4 linked regions of the Homo sapiens genome follow. The protein of the gene in region 1 purifies or fractionates together with the protein of each later gene. This does not show direct contact. Each region holds a gene or a part of one and is shown on either strand. Other genes may lie near its edges.

Region 1 (3,500 bases):
CAATAAAAAATAAATCTCCCTCTCATCCTAAACCCCCAGGACCCAGACCCCCAGTTTCCTTCCCCAGAGGCAACTTCTGTGCCCAATTCCTTGTATCTCCCTCCTGAAATTACCTATGCAAATATAAGCAAATATTTGCTTGTGTATAATCCTTCCCTTCTTTTATTCACAAAAGAGAGCATGTTATACACATTGTACCTTACATACAGCTTTTAAAGAAATCAGTGGTTTCTACATATAGGTTTGTAAGACTCTCAAGACAGCTCTGAAGGTTATCAAACACATAAGCTATTCTGACATCACAGCTCAGAATCATTCCACTTGACAGAAGTGAAGAAAACTCATAGCCCAGATCACCACTGGACCACTGAGCTAACTCTCCTCCTCAGATCTCATCAGTTCCCCAGAGAAAGAAAGATGCTACACCCTGCCTGGCCTGGGAGTCTCAGCCCACAGTGTAGAACCCATTGCAGTGTTATTTTCACCATTTATTCAGATGATCCACTTAGAAAGCCAGAGGCTGGAATGTCTTCTCATGGCCTCTTAGAATTTTCACTGAGTTAATCCACATTTCTCTCCTTTACTATCCCATTCCTGTTTTTATGGCTATGTCTCCTAGGTATGCCTAACAGAATGTGACATCTAGTTTCTTTTGGAGCTTCTTGGCTGTTTCTTCCTATATGACAATTATTCATACCTTTCTAAAAATAAGATGTTTTATCTAGAATGTTTTGGGGAGCCCCACCTAGTGTTAGAGGACCATGCTTCAAGGTTCTGGAGGGACTTTGAGATCTGAAGATTCCTGACTCCTTGGAGTCAGAAGACTGCAATCTCTCTTTCTTTGGGCAAGCCCTTGTACACTAATCTCTGATCTTTACTATTGACAAGTATTATACTTGGCTCTAGAATTTCAGAAACAAACTCTCTAGAGACCTAAGCAAGCAAATATTTGTTTTTAACTCTTCCAAAAGTGTGCTGTGGAGTAACACAAGCAAGGAATGGAAAGGGCCCAGGGGGGAGGCATGAAGATGGAAAAATACGTTTCCAGTTGTTATTTATTGTCATTTCTCTGGATTTCTAATCTCTTTCTACTCCATCTAAGGTCCCAGCAATCCTTGCCAAGATGATCCCTGTGCAGATAATTCGTTATGTGTTAAGCTGCATAATACAAGTTTTTGCCTGTGTTTAGAAGGGTATTACTACAACTCTTCTACATGTAAGAAAGGTGAGTTACAAGGGATGAGCCATGGCTGAGCTCTGTATCTCACACCAAAAGTGGAATCGAAAACTCAAAATGATGGCAAAAGGAGATTCCAAAATATGAGAGATAAAGAAAATGCAGAGGCAACAAAGGCCAGCAAAGTAGAGAAAAGTGCTGTTACCTAGGGACACTGAGGCAGAACAAGGTGATCTATCAAAGACCACACAGTCCAGCAACCCTGGGAGCCTGATCTTCAGTTCTGTGTCACAAGATTTGTTTGCTCCATAACATCAGATCCCCCTCTTAGAGACATAAGAGCCCTTCAGCTCTAAAAATGGATTTCAGGAGTACATTTATACACTTGTGGCATAATGATGTTTTGATTAGATCACCAGGGTGCAGTGAAGGTCTGAGGGCTGACTGTCTGAGTTCTGTTTTTTTTTTTTTTCTGTTTTATGAATGAGAAATATCTTCATTTTCCAGAGCAGCCAATTCTATAAGAAATGAATGCATTGCATTGCCCACTGGGGTTAGGGATATACCAAAAGGCCCCCAAATGCTCATATTTTTAGCACTAATAATCTCACTCCTGGGGATTTACTCTAAGTAAGTGACCCCAAATACAGAAGAACAGTTTGTGTGTGAAGATGTTCATTGCAACTTTTTCTTTTCCTTTTAAATAATTAAAAGCACTAAGTCCAATAACAAAAAATGATTACATCAAGGAAGGGGACATGTACTTCACAGAATATTATGCAACCTTTAAAAATGATGGTTATGAGACCAGGCATAGGAGCTCACACCTGTAATCCCAGCACTTTGGGAGGCCAAGGCAGGAGGATCACTTGAGCCCAGGAGTTCAAGCCTGCAGTGACCCAGTTGTGCCACTGCACTCCAGCCTGGGTGATAGAGCAAGACCCTATCTGTCTCTCTCTCTCAAAAAAAAAAAAAAAAAAAAAGACTAGGCAACGATTTGGAAAATACCTATTATATAATAAGAAGAAAAAAAATATGGCATAAACTTGGAATTACAACAATGTAAACTGTAAATGGAAAGAAATATACCAAAATTAAAATGGTTGTGCTAGGTTGGGCAGGATGATGGGTAACTTTTAAAATATTTCCAGATTTCCTGTAGTGTCGTTATATAATGTTGGGAATTCTAAAAAATAATCTATGTTTTAAAACAAAATGGAAATGACCCTCTTTTCATCAAATAGTACAGAAAGATTCTGCTTAACTTTCAGGAAAGGTATTCCCTGGGAAGATTTCAGTGACAGTATCAGAAACATTTGACCCAGAAGAGAAACATTCCATGGCCTATCAAGACTTGCATAGTGAAATTACTAGCTTGGTAAGTATTTTCCAACTTTCCTTTCTGTAAAGCATTCTTTGTTCTAACACTGAGTTGCAGAGTGTAGAGCTGGTCTTCAGGTGGTTCACGCTCGTACCATCGTACCAGTTGTTCAAACAGTGAAATGTACCTTTACTGGTCGGTAAACAGCAGCTGTCCTGAGCGCCTCCACCGGTGCCACCACTTCTTCATTGCCCAGGCCTCTCCCCTGGGACCCTTGGACCACCCCATGGTCTTGCACCTGGAGGCGTGGCACCTGGCCTGGCATGGCAGAGGGCCTGCAGAAGCTGGCTCCAGCCATACCATACCCATTGTTTTATAAGCTATTAACACAGTTTTAAATGGACAGATAAATATCATGAAGTTTTAAAATAAATTATTTCCACAGAATGAAAGAGAAAAAATTTAAAGATGTTGTTTTTCTTTTTTATATTCAAATTTGCATAAATTTTCATACTAGTCTGGCTTTTAAAAAAATGTCTAGAAGAAGAATTACATCTGAATATCTGTTACTTATTTTTCCCATTTTCAAAAATGTTGGCATGAACAATAGTTTCCCATCATTTAGATTATTGTGAGCAAGTGCACACATGTGAGCAAGCATGAAAGGAAAGGGTCTTTCCATTCTGCAGCCACAGATGTTAGCTCTGGAAGGACCCTCAGAGCATGTCCAGCCAATACAGCTCAAAGTTCAGTTTTAAAGGAAAAAATATTAGCCTTAAATATGTCTTAGAAGTTGAGGTGGAGGCTGGGCATGGTGGCTCATGTCCGTAATCCTAGCACTTTGGGAGGATGAGGCGGGCAGATTACTTGAGGTCAGGAGTTTGAAACCAGCCTAGCCAACATGGTGACACCCCATCTCTACTAAAAATACAAAAATTTAGCCAGGCGTGGTGGCAGGCGCCTGTAATCCCAGCTACTCAGGAGGCTGAGGCAGGAGAATCT
Region 2 (3,500 bases), on another chromosome or scaffold:
GAATGGCATCCCATGCCTGTGGCTAACCAGTCATTTAGTAAGGGAAATAAGATCACTCTGATGAGTTTAGACCAGTGAAGATTTACCTCTTGAGGCTAGGTAGATGCCAGTCACAAAGGACATGCACACTTAGAGAGGAGTAAACAAATCAGGGTTCGATTGGCAAGAAAGAAATGAGGGTAGAGGATGGCTGTTAGGTAAGCAGCCAACAGTTCCCCACAGTAGGACATTTAGATTTTATCCAGTTACTTTCCAACTTCAACATGGTTGCAGTTTATAATAATAGTAATATCTGATACTGCTGAGTGGTTTTTTTTTGTATGCTGGTGCTAGAGAGGTGCTTTATATAAATTTTCATTCAATTCTGACAACCACCCTGTAAGATATATGTTATTATGCCCATTTTATTTGTGAGGAAGTTGAGGTTCAATGAGGTTAAGTATCTTGTCCAAGGTAAAAACAAAAACCTAGGAGGAGGAGGGGCTGGCCTGGTTGTCTCCTGGACACTAGAGGAACTTGTACTCACCAGGCAGAGAGGTCCCCTTCCAGGGCCCTTCCTCAACAAGTGAGCATCAGGCCAGGTCTCTGTATCCAAACAAGAGGAGAAACTTACTGAGGAAAGAATTGGTCAAGCCTCTGCGGCTGCTGCTGTGGTAAAACTAATATAAGCAGTTACTATTGCTTTATTGCGAATTTCTGTTTACGCACTTGTATTTCCAATGTGATGGCCACAGCTCTAAAAGGGCAGGCGATTCATCTTTGAGCTGCCTGTACCAGTTAGTAGAGCTGACTTGTGAAATGCGTATCAAGTGAGTGAAAGAATGAAGTTATAGTCCCAGACTATTTAATAGCTTACTAAATGACTGAGGCTGGCTGTTTTGCTTTTGAGGGCCCGCCTTGCCTCACCTGGAAAATAAACCGCCTGATTATACGAGAGTGAAGTGTTGTTGCCAGCCTAAATAAGACAATTGTGGAACAAAGAGCCACAAACAACAGTAGCCAAGCATGTATCTTGGAGGCTCCCACATTCAGCACTTGCATTTGTGATCTCACATCCATGCTGTTGCCTTCACTGATCATGGAGTGGGGGATCAGCTTGTCTGAGCCAGCTCAGGACTTGCTCCCTCACTGAAGGTTCCAGAAAACGGCACAGTGCTTATTTTAGGTGATGGCTTTCACGCACAAGTGGGCTTTGTACGTGCTGAATAATGTTGCAACTCGTGAAATCATTTTTATTTTCTCTGGAGACTCACCATCCCCTCAAGTGATTTACTATGAAGGCAAAACCTTGGTATAACTTAGTTTTATAATTGTTGAATTTTAATGCTCATAGGAAATATCTGTAACTTCAGTTTTTCATTTTCATCCCCAGTCTTCTATCAATGATGCTGCCGAATTCAGAGTTGTTGCTGATGCCATGAAAGTCATTGGCTTCAAACCTGAGGAGATCCAAACAGTGTATAAGATTTTGGCTGCTATTCTGCACTTGGTGAGTAGGGACACCTCTCAGAATGTATTGTCTTCTGCTGAGAACAGGATGCTTTCTCAGAAGATTTTGTTTTTTCCCTGTAGATTTAAAAAGTATTCAGAGAAAATTTTGTACGTATTTTGAAGAAATTACTATGTCTGTGGTTCTTGCCATCATTTTATAATATTATGAGGGATTTTCCAAGCTACTATAGGGTTGGAGACTACTACTTCAGTTGATTGTCTTACTGGTATTGTCAAACTTTGAACTGGTTAATTTTAAGGATAAAGGAATTCAGCAGTGATGTGACTACTAGTGGTATAAATTTCTAGTGGCATTTGAAACATAGAATCATAGGTTATCGGAACTGGATTTTTAATCATCTCATTTTACAGATTGGGAAATAGCCCTGATGGGTGGCATGACTACCTCAAAGGCACAGCCAGCTCATCCCAGAGCCAACACCATAGACCACTTTTGGGCCACTTGTTTCCCACTATACCACACCAAACTTAGAAGTGAAGAACTGTGTGTTAGATTTCTTTCATTAACATTTATATAATTAGAGATACTTAAAATACACTGAACATATAATCTTACAATAAGAATGACAACATGGATTCAAATCTGGAATAAAAATTACTTTTCACTTAATATAGCAAGATTTAACTCTAAATGAATCAGAAATGTGCAGGATCTTTATGAAAAATATTATATAGCAATATAAACAATAAATGTTCCTGACTAGGAAGACTTTAGTATTATAAATTGTCTCATCTGTTTGAATCAGTTTTTAAATACAGTGCAGCAGTCCTTTTCAGAATCCAAACAAGAATTTTATTTTTTGTTGTTTTGTTTTCTTTTTGAGATGGAATCTCGCTCTGTCACCCAGGCTGGAGTGCAGTGGTGCAATCTAGGCTCACTGCAAGCTCCACCTCCCGAGTTCATACCATTCTCCTGCCTCAGCCTCCTGAGTAGCTGGGACTACAGGCGCCTGCCACCACGCCTGGCTAATTTTTTTTATTTTTAGTAGAGACGGGGTTTCACCATAGCCAGGACAGTCTCGATCTCCTGACCTCGTGATCTGCCCATCTCAGCCTCCCAAAGTTCTGGGATTACAGGCGTGAGCCACTGTGCCTGGCCTTTATTTTGTTTTTAACTTGACCTGTTGATTCTAGAATTTACCTGGAAAAAGATCAAATAAAGTATATTAAAGAAGTGTCGTATAGGGTAGGGTAAGGGAGGAGAGGGAACATGACTAGTTCTACCAAACTTAAAATGATAGTAAAAGCTAGAGTACTTTATAACTTTGCACAAGTTCAGCACCAGATCAACAGATTAATCAACTGATTGGTTAATGTGCTGGACATTTGGTAGATGGTTATAAGTATGTATTGCTTATTGAATGAGTGGAATATAAATAGACTCAAACACTTGAGGAGATTTAACATATTAAAAAGGTGACATTTCAGCTGGGCGGGGTTGCTCACACCTGTAATCCCAGCACTTTGGAAAGTTTGAGGTGGACAGATTGCTTGAACCCAGGAGTTCCAAGACCAGCCTGGGCAACATGGCAAAACCCCATCTATACAAAAAATACAAAAATTAGCCAGGCATGGTGGCACGCATCTGTAGTCCCAGCTATTTAGAGGGGCTGGGGGTGGAAGGATCGCTTAAGCCTGGGACGTTGAGGCTGCAGTGAGCCATGGTGCACCACTGCATTCCAGCCTGGGTGACAGACCCTGTCTCAAAAAAAAGGTGACATTTCAAATCAGAAAAAGCTAGACTGTTCAATAAGTCCCGTTAGAGCAACTAATCATGTGAAAAATAAAGTTAGATTCTTACTTGATACCATGTACCAAAATCAATTGTGGATGGATTAAAAAGTTTAAGGAAAAAGGCCAGGCGCGGTGGCTCACGCCTGTAATCCCAGCACTTTGGGAGGCCGAGGTGGGTGGATCATGAGGTCAGGAGGTCGAGACCATCCTAGCTAACATGGTGAAACCCTGTCTCTACTAAAAATACAAAAAAT
Region 3 (3,500 bases), on another chromosome or scaffold:
AAAAACTTAAAATGGGACAAAAACAACCTACAATCCTTTTCCTCATCCGCACTTCTGACTGTACATCAGGCCAGCCATGCAGAAATGAGCAAGAGGGTGCAAGACTACTCTTGGGGTACCAGGGAGAACAACCTAACTCCAAGGAGCCTCCTCAGACACCCTCCACTTCTGGGCCATTCCTTAGCAACAGAAGCAGAAGATGAAACCACTTTCCATAACTGCAGCTTGGAAGTCTCTTTTCTGAAAACTCTCCCTGACAGAGTATCTGGGATATGTTTTGGAGAATAGCTCTTAGGGCTGCATTACACCGACGATCGGCAAATGGTCAAACATTGAAAGATGATTCATTGCCATTTAAAGGAGCCTTACCTGCATTCCGTATCCTCTCTTTGTACTGCTGATCTAGTTTTTTCATTCTCTTCTGATATTCCTGTAATGTACCTGATTTTGAACATTTGAAAAATAAAATTATTGTGAATATAAATCTGCTCTACATTTTGCTTCCTAAAATTATTATCTAGCATCAACACTGACTGTTTCAGTAACACCAAAGGAAGACACACCTCAGCAAAGTTAACTCTGGTTCTTAACCAAGGCACACAGCAGAAACCACTAGGGGCCCATTCAAAGTCTACCCAACCCAGTGGATCAAGGGTCTGTAGTGAGTGAGGGGGAGTGGAAAATTGCCAATATCTCCACACTATTCTGATCAGTTGCTGCAACAGTCTGAATCAACGGGCCTTCCTTTACTGGAAAAGGTTCATTCTCCTTCAGTAAGGTCTAGGTCAACGCTCTCCAGTAGAACCTTCTGCAATGGTGTGTTTTATATTTGCAATGTCCAACATGGCAGGCACTAACCATTTGTGGCTATTTTAGCACTTGAAATGTAGCTAGTGGAACCGAAGAACTAAATTATTAATTAAATTTAAACAGCCACATGTGGCTAGTGACAGCATTAAACAATTCAGGTATAGATTCTAACCAAATCGCTATTCATTTCATTGCTCTTCCCACAAAACAGTTAATTATGAGGGGCCCATCTTGTGGGGGGAAGTGTTTCCTGATTATAATGCCTGACCATGGGCTAGTCCAAGGGCGTGGATCACTCACCAGCAATAAAAGCACATAGTAGAAACAGCAGTATCAGGCTGGGCATGGTGGCTCATGCCTGTGATCCCAGCACTTTGAGAGGCTGAGGTGGGCGGATCACCTGAGTTCAGGAGTTCAAGACCAGCCTGGCCAATGTGGTGAAACCCCGTTTCTATTAAAAATACAAAAATTAGCCGGGCCTGGTGGCAGGCGTCTGTAATCCCAGCTACTCGGGAGGCTGACGCAGGAGAATCGCTTGAACCCAGGAGGTGAAGGTTGCAGTGAGCTGAGATCGCGCCACTGCCCTCCACCTGGGTGACAAAAGCGGAACTCAGCCTCGAAAAAAAAAAAAAGAAAAGCAAAAACAGTTTCACTGACAAGGGGACTCCACAATATGAAACCGAAGAGCTCACTGCCACAGCTAACTGTCCCCAGGACCTTGCAGTGTGCACACTGCTGTGCTAGACGCTCCTCATGCATAATCACATCTACTCTTACTTGCTTCATTTTGCAGATCAGAAAACAGATTAAACAAGAGAAACTGGCATGTCCAAGGTCACATTACTAGAAGCAGGGAAACTGGGATTCCAATCCCTCACAAAACTCCAGAGCCTGCACTCTTTTTTTTTTTTTTGAGACTGAGTCTCGCTTTGTCGCCCATGCTGGAGTGCAGTGGCACGATCTTGGCTCACTGCAAGTTCCGCCTCCAGGTTCACGCTATTCTCCTGCCTCAGCCTCCAGAGTAGCTGGGACTACAGGTGCCCACTACAACGCCCAGCTAATTTTTTGCATTTTTCAGTAGAGACGGGGTTTCACCATGTTAGCCAAGATTGTCTCGATCTCCTGACCTCGTGATCCACCCGCCTCGGCCTCGCAAAGTGCTGGGATTACAGGTGTGAGCCACCGCGCCTGGCCTCACAGCCTGCACTCTTAACTCTGATGCTGCACTGCCTTTAGCAGCTAGCAGCATTTGACAAAATACAATCTACTTTTAATGTAACAAGCAAAAAGGAGAAAACACAGTGTGAATAATCCACAAGGTCATTAACATTTGGTTTAGAAAAAACAGTAAAAACTTTATTCTTTGATAACAATGTCTCTCCTAAAAATCTCTAGCTTTAGGCACAGTGGCGTTCAATTCGTGCTCCATTGAAAGTCCCAAGTGAGATTTCATTTGAAGAAAGAATCTCACACATACTGGAAATAAATGTTTCAAAATCAAGGAGCTGGAAAATCACCACTTTACTGACAGCAAAAGATAGCAAAATGTACTGGATAGCTAAGATCAGCCAGACCGTGTTTTAAATAACTCCCACAGAGAAGTGAAATACACAGATTTCAAGGGTTTGTAATATTAAGAAGCATATTTAGAAATGCAGGATTCAATCACACACCAACCTTCTTGCAGTTGTTGCAACTGCCTCTTGAGAGAAGCCAGTTTGTCCTGATACATCCTATAAAAAAAAAAAAGTCACACTAACAGATAAAAACATTCAATACTCAATTCCAAAATAACCTACTCACAGAAATTAGCTGGGCTGTTATGGGAAGGTCATTAATGTCCTTCAGGGAAGAGAGGAAAGTAAAGTCTGCTTGCTGGCTTAAAATGCACCAGCAGCCACAGGGATCAGAAAGGAACAAGAAAGAACCCTGTGTTCCTCAATCTTATTCTAATTTTGTAGATTCTCCCATGTTATCCCATCTTTACAGAATCCGTCTAAAACTTGCAACGATAGCAGATTTTAATAAATGACAATTATAAACAGGCAAGCACACACACAATGTAGAAATGGCATTAAACACAACTCTTACATCAACTCTACAATTAGATTGTAAGTTACAGGAGAGTAAGATTATGCCTTCAGCATGTTTTTCTATGCAGATATGCTTAGCAGTGTAAGAACTAAGTCAATAAACCTTCATGTCATTTTTTAAAGCACTACTCTTTTAGGATCAGAGAAATAATAGTAATTCAGAAAGAAAAGTTAAAAGGCAGCATTTACTGGCAGCCCCAGCTGGATGGGAATACACAGCACACACGAAGCAAAAGCATTTGGCATGTTAGTTTTTTCCTCTCACACCTAATGGATTATAGGCAGTCATAACTTCAGCAAGTTGGTTTGAAGGTGGGTTCCACATATAAATCACATTTCAGCAAGTATTTTTGCTTCTACCTGAAAAACACCCTCAATTTAACAGTGATAAAAACAAGATTTGTGATCTGAAAGAACACTGTCCAACATATAACAAGCACAATAACCTTTTGGTATATGTGCTGCTGAAGTGAGCACATGGGCGTGATAACCTTTTTAGCGCTCAAATAAGGGCTGCAAATACAACCCAACCCTCTGTAAGGGGAGGAGAGTAGGCAGAATTTGAGACTCACACACATCTCACTCTTTCAGGGCAAA
Region 4 (3,500 bases), on another chromosome or scaffold:
GGAGGCCGAGGCGAGTGGATCACCTGAGGTCAGGAGTTCAAGACCAGCCTGGCCAACATGGCAAAACCCCGTCTCTACTAAAAATACAAAAATTGGCCGGCACACTGTCACATGCCTGTAATTCTAGCTACTCGGGAGGCTGAGGCAGGAGAATCGCTTTGAACCCGGGAGGCAGAGGTTGCAGTCAGTGGAGATAGCCACCACTACACTCCAGCCTGGGCAACAGAGTGAGACTGTAAAAAAAAAAAAAAAAAAAAAAAAAAAACAGATGTGTCAGTACCAAAAATGACACTTGAGTGGGTATTTGAATTAAGTAGAGGGTTGATCTTTCCCAACATAGTACTATTTCAGGACGTTTATTGAAGGCATTGGTGGAGCTCTCTGTATGTGTTTTGCTCTGCAGGGAACTCAAAGTTGGCATTCCCGTCACGGATGAGAATGGGAACCGCTTGGGGGAGTCGGCGAACGCTGCGAAACAAGCCATCACGCAAGTTGTCGTGTCCAGGATTCTCATGGCAGCCCCTGGCATGGGTTAGCAGGACTTTGTCATTTATTCCATAAATACAGGTTGAACCAGCGTTCACGGATCCGTGAACCAGAAAACAAACACATATATCACACCTCTTAGTGGAAATTGCCTTCCACTGGGGGTGGCAGAAAATAAACAAGTAAATAAAGTATGTAGTATGTGCAGTGGTGATGAGGGCAAGGGGGCAATGGGGCTAGGGCGTGTGGGTAGGGCAGCCGGGGAAGAGCACTGGGTGGAGGTGTGGGAGTGAGCCAAGTGGGTATCGGTGATGAATATTCTGGCAGAGGGAACCACAGGCAGGAGTTTGCCTGGTGTGTTACAGGCATTACGGGTGCAGGTGCAGCTGGGGCACAGTGGGAGGGGTGGGGAGCAGTAGGAAGGGAGTCAGGAGGCCACAGACGGCAGAGCGTGGATGGCAGCCCTGGCGTTTCACACCTGGGTTTTAGTCTGAGAGGTAAGAAGCCAGGCAGGGTTTTGCATACAGGAGCAGCACAGTCTGACTTAGGTTTTATCTGTGTGACTCTGGGTGGTGGGTTGAGAATAGGCTGAAGGAGAATGAGAATATTCAGTGGAGGCTGTGCGGGGAGGCTGCCTCAGTAATCCAGGCAAGAGGCAGTGATGGGCTGGACCAGGGCCATACAGTGGGAATTTGACCAGAAGGAACTGATGGAGCAAATTGGAATGGTTAGAGCAGCTACTGATAAAATGTGTGCCAAGCAACTGCTCAGGTTTCCCTATAGGGACTGGGGTCAGAATGACCAAAAATAGAAAGTCTACATTGTATTTAGTTCTGCTGAGAATCTCTAGTCCACCCTAAGGCTGCTTAGAGCTACCTTCAGACCAGGGGCCTAAAGAAAGTTCTCAGACTGAGAAATCAGAGGGCCTGGCAGTTAGAGTGCTCTTCACAGAAAAAAAACAGAAATTAGTATGTTTAATTTTCATCATCTAAACTGAATGCAAACAGCGCTTGGCAATTAAAATGAAGCTCTCCAATGAAGTATACTTCATCAGCTGCTGTCAAGTCATCCATTGATACTGTTTTGCGGTTTTTAAATTCCTTTTGTCACTGTGACTGCTCATCAGCAGGCAAGGAAGAGCAGGCAACAAAAGTTGAAAAGTGCATGAAGGAAAACTTTGAGGAATATGATATTCACATTCCAGCAAATTGGGGGAAAACTGCTATTATCTGGTTTAACACAGGAGTGCCTTGGTGCCCTGCCTGAGGCTAATGTGTTCTGTAGGGGTGGCTGCACAGCCACAGTCCTGAAACATGGGAAAGCATCTCCTGAGTCCAGGGACCAGCACGTTTGTCACTAACCTAAAAGGAGGCTATGGAGCCCACCCCGGTGTTCCTACTGAGCCCTGATTTCCAGATTTGCTGAAATCGAGGTTGCGGCTCCAGCTTCTGCCCTGGGTTTGGTTTGTTGTTGTCGTCGTTGTTTTTGAGACAGGATATTGCCCTGTCCCTCAGGCTGGAGTGCAGTTGCTGTGATCATGGCTCACTGCAGCCTCAACTTCCCTGAGCTCAGGTGATCCTCCTACCTCAGCTTCCCCAGTAGCTGGGACTACAGGCGTGCGCCACCACACCCAGCTGATTTTTGTATATTTTGTAGAAACAGGGTTTTGGTATGTTGCCCAATTAGTCTAGAACTCCTGGGCTCAAATGATCCACCCACCCCGAATGCTAGGTATACAGTTGTGAACCACCATGTCCGGCCCTGGGTTTGCTTTTGATTGTGGTCTTTTCTGTTTTGAATTGCCTTACTCCTCTTAGAGTTCAGCCAGTCCAGACGGACAAATCCATTTCTAGTGATTTGGTTATTTTAAACACTATTTAGTCCCCAGAGAAGAAATACAATCTTTCTGTCCTAGTGCAATTTATAAGAGTAATTGACATATTGAAATAGTGGATATGACAGTTTAGCCTGATAAAAGTTGTCAGCAAATGAACGAATGCTGTCCACCGCATACCCAGTGTTTTACATGCAGTATTGTCTCCAATTTCCTCCATTTTATAGAAAAAGAAAACAGAAAGCTGAGGCTCAGAGAAGTTAGGTAACTTCTCCAGGGTCACCCAGCTAGCAAGTGGTCTAGCCCAGCGGTCCCAAACCTTTTTAGCACCAGGGACCCATTTCATGGAAGACAATTTTTTCATGGACCAGGGGTCAGGGGGATGGTTTCAGGATGATTCAAGCACGTTAAATGTATTGTGTACTTTAGTTCTATTATTATTACATTGTAACATATAATGAAATAATTAGACAAGTCACCATCATGTTGAATCAGTGGGAGCCCTGAGCTTGTTTTCCTGCAGCTAGACAGTCCCGTCTGGGGGTGATGGGAGACAGTGACAGATCATCAGGCACTAGATTCTCATAAGGAGCGGGCAACCTAGATCCCTTGTATGTGCAGTTCTCAATGGAGTTCAGGCTCCTGTGAGAATGTAATGCGGTCGCTGACCTGACAGGAGGCAGAGCTCAGGCGTAATGCAAGCAATGGGGAGCAGCTGTAAATACAGCTAAAGCTTCATTCACTTGCCCACTGCCCTCCTCCTGCTGGGCAGCCCTATTCCTAACAGGCCAGAGATCCATACCAGTCCATGGCCCAGGGGTTGGGGCCCCTGGTCTAGCCTGTACGGAAGCAGTTTCTGCCTGACTCCAAGGCAGGATTCTTTACACCATCCTCCCTGCCTTGTGCCCTTTGTTTTATTAATATAGGAAGAAAAAGTTCCTGATATTTTTATTTTTGTCTACTTAAACCTAAAAGTAAAGTTCTTTTCAAGATTATAAAACTTTCTGGCTGGCAGAGGATGTGATATTACTGTTCAAAAATTTAGAAAATCAGAACAGTTTTCAATCTAATGAATTCAAATGTAATAATTTAAAGAATTGCTACAAACTGTTTTTACTGTGACAGTGGAAATAGCCTAAAAGTGACAGAAGCTTTCTGTCAAATGGTTGAAAAAAAAAGT

The links.
Region 2: the proteins of MUC13 (region 1) and MYO1D purify together in Homo sapiens (affinity purification with mass spectrometry, with the first as the bait; one study listed by BioGRID). This does not show direct contact.
Region 3: the proteins of MUC13 (region 1) and SUDS3 purify together in Homo sapiens (affinity purification with mass spectrometry, with the first as the bait; one study listed by BioGRID). This does not show direct contact.
Region 4: the proteins of MUC13 (region 1) and SFXN1 purify together in Homo sapiens (affinity purification with mass spectrometry, with the first as the bait; one study listed by BioGRID). This does not show direct contact.

Annotation. Positions count from the first base shown.
Region 1 is NC_000003.12:124,921,252-124,924,751, reverse strand, and holds part of MUC13 (mucin-13 precursor), read left to right. Parts: intron 1-1,102; coding exon 1,103-1,225; intron 1,226-2,448; coding exon 2,449-2,555; intron 2,556-3,500. UniProt on the Homo sapiens protein: Epithelial and hemopoietic transmembrane mucin that may play a role in cell signaling.
Region 2 is NC_000017.11:32,765,625-32,769,124, reverse strand, and holds part of MYO1D (unconventional myosin-Id), read left to right. Parts: intron 1-1,372; coding exon 1,373-1,489; intron 1,490-3,500. UniProt on the Homo sapiens protein: Unconventional myosin that functions as actin-based motor protein with ATPase activity. Plays a role in endosomal protein trafficking, and especially in the transfer of cargo proteins from early to recycling endosomes.
Region 3 is NC_000012.12:118,383,055-118,386,554, reverse strand, and holds part of SUDS3 (sin3 histone deacetylase corepressor complex component SDS3), read right to left. Parts: exon of another isoform or gene 3,171-3,500; intron 2,544-3,170; coding exon 2,488-2,543; intron 442-2,487; coding exon 370-441; intron 1-369.
Region 4 is NC_000005.10:175,513,060-175,516,559, forward strand, and holds part of SFXN1 (sideroflexin-1), read left to right. Parts: intron 1-403; coding exon 404-531; coding exon of another isoform or gene 532-536; exon of another isoform or gene 537-677; intron 678-3,500. UniProt on the Homo sapiens protein: Amino acid transporter importing serine, an essential substrate of the mitochondrial branch of the one-carbon pathway, into mitochondria.